2 separate regions of the Homo sapiens genome follow, and region 2 is linked to region 1. The links come from fine-mapping of genetic effects on gene expression. A gene starts in region 1. The other region holds a variant in brackets. All regions are shown on one strand. Distances are between the middles of the regions. Region 1 holds the start of LPIN1 (lipin 1). Region 2 overlaps LPIN1 (lipin 1).

What was found. PIP is the estimated chance that this variant, and not a neighbour inherited with it, causes the effect.
Region 2: its variant is fine-mapped to the expression of LPIN1 in whole blood (INTERVAL, PIP above 0.99).

The regions. Positions count from the first base shown.
Region 1 is chr2:11,744,393-11,749,763 of GRCh38, forward strand. It overlaps LPIN1 (lipin 1), which reads left to right and starts at 2,240. Exons shown (of 21, transcript NM_001349206.2): 1 at 2,240-2,279. It overlaps LOC124907735 (a long non-coding RNA gene), which reads right to left and starts at 1,067. Exons shown (of 2, transcript XR_007086220.1): 1 at 1-1,067. RefSeq lists enhancers at 407-980, 3,492-4,163, 4,936-5,195, 5,216-5,265 and a silencer at 1,919-2,488.
Region 2 is chr2:11,823,109-11,828,479 of GRCh38, forward strand. It overlaps LPIN1 (lipin 1), which reads left to right. Exons shown (of 21, transcript NM_001349206.2): 21 at 1,524-4,301. The coding sequence ends at 1,683. Among named protein-coding and RNA genes, the nearest start is that of MIR4262, 11 kb to the right of the region's middle. RefSeq lists an enhancer at 4,576-4,685. The variant C/T (reference allele first, on the strand shown) is at 2,580.

The DNA of each region.
Region 1 (5,371 bases):
CTGTGATCTAGTGAGTGTTTTCTTCTCATTGCTTGTTTATACAAAAGGCTCCCCCCAACCCTTGGCCTTCCCCGAGGTGGTAGGCTGGGCAGCAGCGGGACCTAATTTGCTCTGAATCCAGCCAGACCCTGCTCATCAGAGCTGACCCTAGCCGTGCTGGGCCCCCCAGCTCATCATTTTCAGAATGAGGGCTTTGAGTTGAATTGTCCTATATTTTCAGACCTCCCATCTCCACATTTGAATAATGGACTTATTTTACACAAAAAATAAACTTAAGTGGCCTGAAGTTGGACTGGCTTCCTGGAAAGCCTTTCCACATAGAGTAGACTTCTTCCCAGGCCAGCTCCTCCCTGGAGGTGGGAGGGGAGGGTGCAGGAGGGCTTCCTTCTGGGGCCTTGCAACCTCAGCAGTTTTGGGCAGCCGTGATGCACTTGAAACTCTGGTCTCTGAGAAAACCCCTGTGGAGGTAGCTCACCTACAAACTGCAAGATTCTCTTTGTGTAGCTCCCACGTCTGCAATGTCAGCATGGGACAGGCTGCCTAGATAGGAGCTGCCCCAAGCCCAGCGGGAGCGTGTCCACACTTGACCAGATGGACGGGAGCCGCGCCCCTGGACAAAGCTCTCCAAGCAGCTGTCCCCAAACATCTATCTCAAGCTTGCTGGCTTATCCAATTCACTAAGCTGCCGCATTCGATGCTGTTTCTAAGCTGGCCTCCTCCCTGGCCCTCTGCATCTCAGCAGAGCAGCGGTTCCATCTCCACACTGAGACTTGCCTTTGAGTATCGCATCACACACCTCCACCGGTTCCATTCATCAGTAAGCCTGTGGGTTTTGCCTCCAAATCTCTCTGAAGTCCTTCCGCTTCTTGCTGAGTAGCCCCTGTAATCTGAGCCACCATCATGTCCCCCGGTTTCCTGCAGTGCCACCTGTCTGCTGGCTTCTACTCCTGCAGTCCATTTTCCATGGAGTGGAGGGGTGACTTTTTAAAGAAGTAAATTAGATCATATAATTCCCAGGTTTAAAATTCTTTTTGGACCAGGCGTGGTGGTTCACACCTGTAATCTCAGCACTTTGGGAAGCCAAGGTGGGAAGACTGCTTGAGCCCAGCAGTTTGAGACCAGCCTGGGCAACATAGGGAGACCTGGTCTCTACAAATAGTTTGAAAAATTAGCTGGGCGTGGTGGCATGCACCTGTGGTCCCAGCTACTTGAGAGGCTGAGGCAGGAGGATTGCCTGAGGCCAGAAGGTGAAGGCTGCAGTGAACCGAGATTGTGCCACTGCACTGTAGCTTGGGTGACAGAGTGGGACCCTGTCTCAAAAAGAATTGGTTTGGAATAACATTTAAATAATACCTAAACTCCTTGCCTTGGCCTACAAGACCTGAATATTTGGCCCCTGCCTTCCCTCCAGCCCACAGCACCGGCCCCAGGACCTTTGCACCTGCCATTTCTGCTCTCCAGAAAGCCCTGCCTCCTCCCCATCTTTGTAGTCATAGGTGTTTCTTGTCATTTAGAGTTTCAGTTCAAATATGACACCCTCCCATTGATGGAAATCATTTCACCACCAGACGTTATGTGGCTCATTGTTTATCCGCTGCCTGCCTCCCGGCTGGAGAGGCGCAGGGAGCTGCCTGTCCCTCCTGTTCAGAGCCACCGTTCCGCACCTGGACCACCGCTTGGCAGAGGCGGGAGTGGAGGCTGTCACCATCAGGATGAAGGACAGGGGTGGCCCGGCGTGGAGAAGCTAAGAAGAGATGGCGATAGGTCAACGCGATTGCGCCTTTAAGGTGGAAGAAACGAAGGGCGAGGGTCAGTAAAGTCAAGGACGGGCTCAGATCCCGCCACTGGTGATAAGCGGGACCCATAGGACCGACGTGATCGCGGCCAGGCCCTGGGTGGTTTACCTGGACTTTTACCTGGCTGCCTTTTCTCTGCACCCCTCCGTCCTCACTCCCCCAGTCATCGGCATAGGTCAAGTCAGAGTGTTGAAGAAACACACGAGTTTGGCTCTGGAAAGGAAAATCAGAAAGGCGGCCTAAGGGGCCCCACCCCCAGGAACGCTAAGATAGGCGGCCAGGGGTGAGCGGGCAGGGCCGGCCAGCAGGCCCTGAAAGCAGCCGGGCCACCAGCGCGTCCCGAGTCCCCCTCGCACCGCCCCGCTTGCCCCGCCCCTGCCCTCTGCCCCCGCCCCTGCCCCGCCCCCGAAGGCGAGCTGCGCTGACAGCCGGCGGCGGGCTGGGTGTTTGCAATACAAAGGCGGCCACGCGCGGCGCCGCTCGGTGAGTAGCCGCCGCCTCCAGCCTCCCGCTGTGGAGCAGGGGCCGCAGCCTCGGGTTAGGCGGGGCGGGGCGCGGCGCCGGGGCGCTGAGGACGCGTGGCGAGGCGGGGGCTCGGCCCCGGGGCCCGAGGACCGACGGCCGGGCTACGTCCCCGGGGCCCTCTACGGGAAGTGGTTCGGGGGAGGGAGGCGGGGAAACAGGCCCCGGAGGCCGGGAGGGCCTCGCGAGCATCCCTCGGGCCTGGCTTTCCTGACGCGCCGCGAGGCCCGGTGTGGGCCCGGCTTGGCTGATCTCGAGCGGCGTAGGGGCCACTGGGGGCTGCCGCGCAGTCCCAGAACCGCGGGGACTAGCTCCAGCCGGCCAGCGCGGGTGCGTCCTGGCTCTGCGCGATCATCCCCAGCTTTGCGCCGGGGACTGGGATGAGAGCCTTTCTTTCCCCCGGAGTTAGGATTCCAGCGCTGCAGTTGAGGAAACTGAGGCTCAGGGAGGTTGACCTCTGTGCCCAAGGTCATACAGTTGCCGGGCGGCAGGGCAGGCTGAGCCCAGGTTGGAATCCCGGTTCTCATATTACAGCTCTCCCCTGCGAGGCCTCTGCACCTTTCTTGCAGCCTAGGAGGTGCTAGGCCTAGTGAGCTCCGTCAGCTGCTCCTGCACGTAATTTTATTATGGGCAAGGCCAGGAAAATGCAGGATGAGAAGTAACGTTTTGGGAGTAACTTAAGTGCTGTGGAGCTAGAGTAGGTAATTTGTGTGGTCAGTAGTTGCTGGAGAAAGCAGATGTCAACCCTGTTTTTGATCAGCAAGCAGGAAACCAACTAAGACAACTGGCAGTATTAATTTGGAGATGTTTTAGAACCCGGCAGTTTCCCACAGGATAGAAGTGTTTTGGGAAATCAAAGCTTGTAGCCGTTTTTTTAATTGGGGGTGTTGTGGTATGGTGGTCTAGGGGTAGTGATTGTGAGATTGACTGTTTATCCTTTGTTCCGTAATTTGGGTCTTATTAATGAAAGTAAGCAGTTGAGGAATGTATAGTATTTGAGAAATAAGCACATCCACACATGAACACTTTTCTTGCTCCCAGATTCTTGTTGAAAGGTGTAACAGTTGGATTTATGATTATATACTTTGATAGCACTTCACGTTTGCCAGCATTTGTTATTGAGTGTTTTTGTGCATGGGTTGTGTGTTTTGGCGCTTATTATTCCTATTTGCATGTGGGGCCCTGTGGTCCTGTGGAGCCAGGCCTGGATATAGCCCTGGACTCGGGTCGGGAGGTCTGGGCTCTGCCTGAGCTCTGTGGGACCCTGAGCGAGTTCTTTCACCCACCCAGGTCTCGCTTATCAGCAGTTCCTTTCTTTTAGAAAAGCACAGGGGGACAAGGGGCGGACCTGCTGAGTCTTGTGGTGTGGGAGAGAACGCGAGGGTTCAGGTGAGAGACCGCAGGGATTCCTGGTTGTAGGGGGGACCTTGGAAGTGACTGAGAAGGAGCCTGCCCTGGATTAGGTGGGGACAATTGGCCTGGCCCAGCCAGAAGGAAGTCTGTGGGTCCTGCTCTCCTGCTCTTTGCGTGGTCAGCTGCACAAAGGGCCCAGAACAGACGGCAGGGGAGGGTCAGGAGATGAAAAGATATTTCAGAAGAAGGTCCTGAGGCCACCGTGGTCTGAGATGCGCCGAGGCCGGCACAGAGCACTGGGCTTTGCAGTTGTTGTTCTGACCACTCACAGATGTAGAACTTGGGCAGAAGACTTCAATCCTCTGAGCCTCAGTTTTCCCATCTGTAAAATGAAGGGATAATCATACCCATTCACAGGATTGTTGCAAAAATTAATTGAGATAAAAAAGAGCCCCTGGAACATAATATGGGGTCCACGAATCATTGTGGTTGTTATGATTTTAAAGTGCCACAGGGTGCCAGCGAGGAGGGGCTCTTTGTGGGGTTGGGACAGTCCTGGCTGACGCCGGCCTCTGCTCTGTAAATCATCCCTGTGGGACACCCCCTCCCCCTGCCTGCCACCTCTCTTCCGGTTGGCTTTTCCGGACCATCTGTGTACTGGGTTCAAGGCCTAAAAGGTACCTAAATGAGGTTAATTGATTTGGGCAAGCCTGCCAATGGGGGTAGTCGAGGGGTACAGGCAGCTTTTTCCTTAGGGTGGGAGGGGGCTGTTGCACGGATGTCGGCAGCTTTTGGAGCATTTTGAGAGACATCCAGGTGTTAGGTCCCGCCAGGACACCGAGGCTGGTGGTTCGACCTGTTTGCACTTGCACTTCCTCACTGGTAGCCCGGGCGTGGGATCTTGGAGCTTTTGAGGGGTCCTGAGGAGGAAGTCCCTGGAATCACCCACTAGCAGCTTTGGGGCTTGTTCCTTGAGAAGGGCAAAGTCACAATTTTGACACTTTATTGAACCCTGGACCAATGTATTGTATAATAAGCCCACTCATTTAAAACTGGAACGGGGTGTGTGGGGAAAAAAGAGTTGGGACAAAACCCAAGCAAAGCCGTTCAGTGACGTCACAGGTTCTTCATTCAGAAGAGGCCCAGGTGCCTATCGGATGGCTGTTTCTGAAATGTTCGCTTTCTGAGCTGTGAGGGAGGGTCTGGAGAGAGAGAGGGGCCCATGCCTGTGTGTCGAGGGGACACACCCACACTGGCCCTGCTCCTTGATCAGAGGATGCACCAGCGCCTGAAGGGAATCTGTGCCCCCTAGGAGGCCACACTGGGCCCTGGGGCTGCTGGGGTCCGAAGCAAGTGCCCTGACCTCCCTTCCTGTGGGTTCCCTTCCTCTTCCTCTTTCCACAGCTTTCCCCTGTCTGTCTCCCTACCTGTAATTCACCCCAACAAGCCCTTAGCAGCTGGGGTTGGGGTGGGGTCTGTGCAGCCAGGGATATGTTGAGTAGTGAGTTTCTGCCTGTAGAAAGCTCTGGGTCTGGGCTGACCCAGACCCAGGCTGACACTTTTCACAATGAGGTATGTGGCCCAGGAGTCTTAAAACCTCAGCAGTGTCTGGCCCACAGGCTGTTCTGCACACTGAGGGATGCAGGGCGCGTTGTGCCGCTCCCACTCCCAGCTGAGAGGTTGGGAGGAACCAGATGGAC
Region 2 (5,371 bases), 79 kb after region 1:
TCTTCAGAGGCTGGGGCCACACAGCGGGAGCAGCTCAGTTCTTTTTCCCTTTCGTTTGCGAGTGTCTGTGCGTAAGCTCTGCCTGCTTGGGAGGAGCACTGTGTGTGGAGGTCGGTCTGGGGGAGGCGCGCAGATGGAACTCGGCCTGGCCGCTCAGGGAGTGTGAGAGTGGGTTTGGTTCCAGTGCACCGCGGCCTTGTAGTCAAGCCTGCAGGGAGGGGCCCTGCTGCCGCAGCCACAAACCTCAGACAAATAAGCCTTAAAGCCGGGAGGTATTTTAAAAATCTGTCTGTTTGTTTGAATCCCAAGGAAAGACATAACTCTTGGTTTTGTATTAGGAGACGTCACTTTCCCATTTTGTGCAAGCACACTGTTTCTCATAAGTCCTTTGGAGGTCCTTTATTAAATATACACACTCGGCTTCATTTAGTACATTATTTTATACCTCAGAACATGCACACTTCTGGAGTCTGGATTTTGGAAGTTCCTTTAGGTTCTTAGCAATTTGGAACTAGACAGTGATCAGTGACTGTCAAGGAGGAATCTGGGGATGGCTGGCAGTGGGCTGGGTGTGCCAGAATCTCAGTTTGGAGGTGCCTGGAGGTCTGAACATGCATATTCAATATAGCAATAGCAACTTTCTTTTCATAGTATAAGCCACAGAAACTAACATGCAACATATTTTTGGGCATGCAAATAAAAGAGAGCAAGAGAACGTTGTAGGAAGCATTGGGAAGCCCTGCTCTAATTCAGCTCCACAGACTATAAAGACGAAGGGCTCCAAGAGGGCAAGACAATTGTCCAAGGTTACAGCAAGCAGGAGAGCCCGGGTCTCTTGACCGTCATGCCAACCAGGGCTTTTTTCTCTAAGACGTGTTGATAATTTGTCATTTAGATACATTTGAGCACCCAGTATACATTATTTTAATGTTGCATATGTTATTTTATTTAAATTATCCTTAAAACTGTGGCATAGTTTTTATTTTCCTCCCTTTACAGTGGAGGAAATTGGCTTAGAGAGGTTACGCCATTTGCCCACGATCACGCAGCTAGTAAATGGCAGAGCTGAACATCAAATTAATGTCTCTTTAACCCCAGGACCCAGCTCCTTTTCACTATGCAATGAAGCAATCTCTGTCAGGTGCTCCAAAGATGTGCCTTGTCTGTGATTCTTCCCCCGATGTCCCATATGTGACCCCTGCAGCAGGCGCTATCCCATGGCCATGGTGACTTCCTCCTGCCGTCTTTTGCTTGGCTGTATCTCCTTTACCTGTCCTTCAAGTGAAGTCAGGTCCCACCCACCTCTTCCCCAGAGCCTTCTCTGATGCCTTGTTTGCATACTCTTCATTTTCATCTCTCATTTTCAATTAATCGATAACAAATTATTCTAGAATGACTTGAGTCGTGTCGATAAGTAGGCGGTCTGCTCCTTGAGGTTGTAGATCTCTCTTGACTTCTACGTGCAGCCCTGGGTGCATAGCTGGTATCGCTCAGTGCCAGTGACAATGTCCCTTTCCTTCCAGGTATGTGAGACTCTGTGAAGTAGTCGACCACGTTTTCCCGTTGCTGAAAAGAAGCCATTCTTCAGACTTTCCCTGTTCGGATACCTTCAGTAACTTCACCTTTTGGAGAGAGCCACTGCCACCTTTTGAAAACCAGGACATTCATTCTGCCTCAGCGTAAAATGTCCCAAGCAGCCTCTTGCCAGCAGTGCAGAGCCTGGTTGTCACCCATTAAAGGATAGGTCTCCCCGGAGTGCACAGCTCCACCTGGGAGCCTGGCGCGTCATCATTGGCCTGACAGCAGAGAGAATTGAGAAGCATTTCTCCCCTGCCCCACCCCGGGGCTGACATTTCTAAGCAAGATAGGAAGGGAGCACTTTCTAGGCTAGGAGTTGGGTGCATTTGTACCGTGAAAAGCATTCCTCAGTTGTGGCTTAATGCCAGTTACGACGCTGCCTTTCCGGCCTGCTCCAGCAAGTAGCTACTGGTTCACGTGCAGTTTGGGGCTGTGAAACCTAGGCAGAAGGCGGCTGTCTGAGGGCTGTCCCCGCCTAGGACAGGGTCAATCGAGGAATGCCAGATGTGCACGGTTTTTGGCAAAGTAGGGGGCACATTTCCATTATAGCAATGTTAGTGCCACCACCTTCTGAACACAGTGGGGAGGGCTGTGAAGGCTCATGTGACCTGGATCTGAGGTCTCTGATAGAAATCTGGACGCCACCGGGTCCAGGCCTGGCCTCAGACTTGGCCTTGTGGATGGGCCCCTTACAGTATTTGCTGACTAGTCTCATTTTTAGGTGATAAATTTTTCTTTAATTCCTTTGGTTAAAGATAGTCTATTTCATTGGCATATCTCCCCCCAGTTTTTGTGGCTCAAGGCTGGAATATTTATGCCTTAATATATCTATGGCAGACATTTAAGAATGCGCTTTATCTAGCTCATGGTAACTTTGCAACGCCTTAGATTAAAATGACAGTAAATATTACTAAGGCAGTATTTTGAATGAGTTTGACACTGCCGGCTTCCTTCCATCCAGCGAGGTGGTGCTGACAGTGTGGACTTGAGCACACTTATGC[C/T]AAATGATAATGATACTGACTTCTGTTGGGAGCTCTCCAAAGAAACTGGTTGGTTTTAAGAAAATAGTTTCAAGAAGTTCAACTATATTCTTTTAGATATTATGTATTGTTTTACTCTGATTAGGTTACTGTGATAGGCATTTATTCATATTCTTTCTATACCACTGTCATTAATATATTAAAAAGATGTATGTGTTAGACTATCGAAAGGGCCTTATTCTCTCTTTCTCATAGACTGACCTTCTTTTGGAATTTCTGAGTCATTTATTTTCCTTAGCTTTTTCCACTCAAATTAAGGGCAAGCGAAAAAGTAATAATTTGGCATTCTTTAAGCCTACAGAATGTGATTCTTTCACTTGTTTATTACACTGGCTCGTGGACAGAACAATTTGAAAAGTGAAAGAATTATTTTGGTAAAAGATTTTGCTTTACTTTTCGAAGCATTATTTTTTTAAAGAGTGTTTTACTCCAACGATTGAAACATTTTCCTATTTAAATTTCATTGTTAGAATCACAGGAGGCAAAAAATGGAACGGTTGAATGAAATTTTACTCTTTCTGTGAAAGAAAATCCACAGAGTTGTTGCCTCCGTTGTAGTTGGTGGGCCCCGTTAGCATTGGATGCCTTTGCCAAATGGTTCATGTGGACACACAAAGGCAAACAGATCTGCCATCGATCGCAGATTTCTGTAGAAACACGGATGTGCATGTGCAGATTCCCTTTTGCAGGTATTAAAAATAATTAAAAATAGTCCTGCCTGAGGTTGCAGTGAGCCGAGCTTGCACTACTGCACTCCAGCCTGGGTGACAGAGTAAGACTCCATGTCAAAAAAAAAAAAAAAAAAAAAAAAGTCCTGCCTTAACTAACTCCTCTGCGCTTGTTCACTAGTAACCTAAAGAGGCTATATTCATTCTTTATGCAATGAGGGTATTTTTGAGTGAATTTTAACTGCTCTGAACTAAGTATAAGCTCATGGGCCTGCAAAGGTTCAGACGGTTTCTCCTTTGCACCCAGGAGGAACTTTGGCTGCGAGAATGGGGGGATGTATCCCTCATGCAGTTGGCATCCAGGCAGCCCTCTGCAGCAGCACACCCTGCAGGCGGAGTTTTCAGAGGATGCAATTTTGGATCCCGAATTTTGATGTACCTTAAACTTCCACATCACTGCACCCTGAAACAGAGCATGCTTTCCAGAAAGTCACACTCTCAGATCTGTGTCAAGTTCAATGTGAGCCCTGGCAAGGCTGGCATATTAACACCTGCCTTCTGGCTTCTGAAAGTGAGATTTGTATATGGGCTGCACTCACGCATATACGAGTTGGTTTATCTTTGTGTACATGACTATAACCCAGTGATGCTGAGGTCATGTGCTGGAATGCTGTATTTGGACCACACATTTCAAAGTTGCCCTATGGAAATGAATCCTACTTAGTGACAAGTCATCAAATGTTTGTCACATGTGATGAAGACAAATATGTATACCTGGCATAGAGAAAAATATATACCTGGTACATTGGAGAAAAATAATTACACTTTCAAAGAGAATTCCCTTTGCAATTTTATGTTTGGATCACCACTGTAAGCACACTTTATTTGCATTTGATCTGTATTTGTATATGCTGATGCAATGATAAAAATCACTGTAATACTTCATTGTGTTGTACTGGATGCAAAGCTAGAAAATATTGCAATAAATGAGACCGATGAAAGACTTCTCTGAAAATCAGGTGTGTGAATTTTAAATAGTTTTTGGTAAGTTACTAAGTTGTTGACTTTTCTGGGGTGTGTTATCAAGCATATTCTAAAAAAAATCTTCAGGCTATGAATTGTTCACTATTTGGAATAAATGTTTTTCCTGATGTTTTAGATTTAAATGGGTAAAAGACCAGCCTTCTCTATGCACTTGCTGGGGACGGGAGGGATGAAGAAAGAGAGGAGAAGGCTGCACCCGGGATCCCTCCCTGCCCTGGTGGGATGATTCAGGAGTAGGGAGGTTTCAATCAAGTGAATTTCATGAAGTGCCTCCCAGGGCCTGGCCTAGAATTGGTGTTTAGCACATGGGGGTTCCCCAGCCTCACAGCTGCTGTCCTCATTTTTTCGACTCTTCTCTGTGGTAAACCCCAGATTCATTTTTCATTTTGAATGAATCAAAATCCTTGACTAGTGCAATCATATAAGCTGAAAACTGTCATAATTCCTATTGATTTTACATGTCAACGTGGCTGGAAGCTTCCTATTGATTTACCTGCATCAGCCTAAGCGTTTTTGGAATAAATGGAAAAGTATTGGCCCCCTAAATGCAACATAGCCGGCCAGGATACTAGGCCCAATTCCTAATGAAGCCCAAATCCAAACGGTTCATCTCTAGGTGCCTGTAGAATTAATGCTTTTGCATCTTAAAAAACAAAACCTTCTAATTTTGTTGAACACCATCACGGATTTGTTCCAACTCGGACTTCAGTGTGCGGGCTCTTTTATCTATAAAATAAAAATTTGTCTAGACTATTGTCTTTGGCCTGTGGATTCCCACGTGCTGGCGGAGCTCTGCAGGCAGCTCTCACGTGTGCGGGGTAAACGAGCTCGGGGGCTTGGATTTCCCCAGCGTCTCAGCTGTGATCACCTGAATGTTTAAAAGGCTTTACAGCTTGGTTCTCAAACACTGACACATCAGCTCTCTTGCATCGGAAGCCGAGGAAGGTTGACGATGGGGCCATTGACCATCAGCATTGGACCCCAGAGTGCTCTTTCCAGGAAGAGGGAATGCACGTGGCCCTACTACAGCCCTAGAACAGC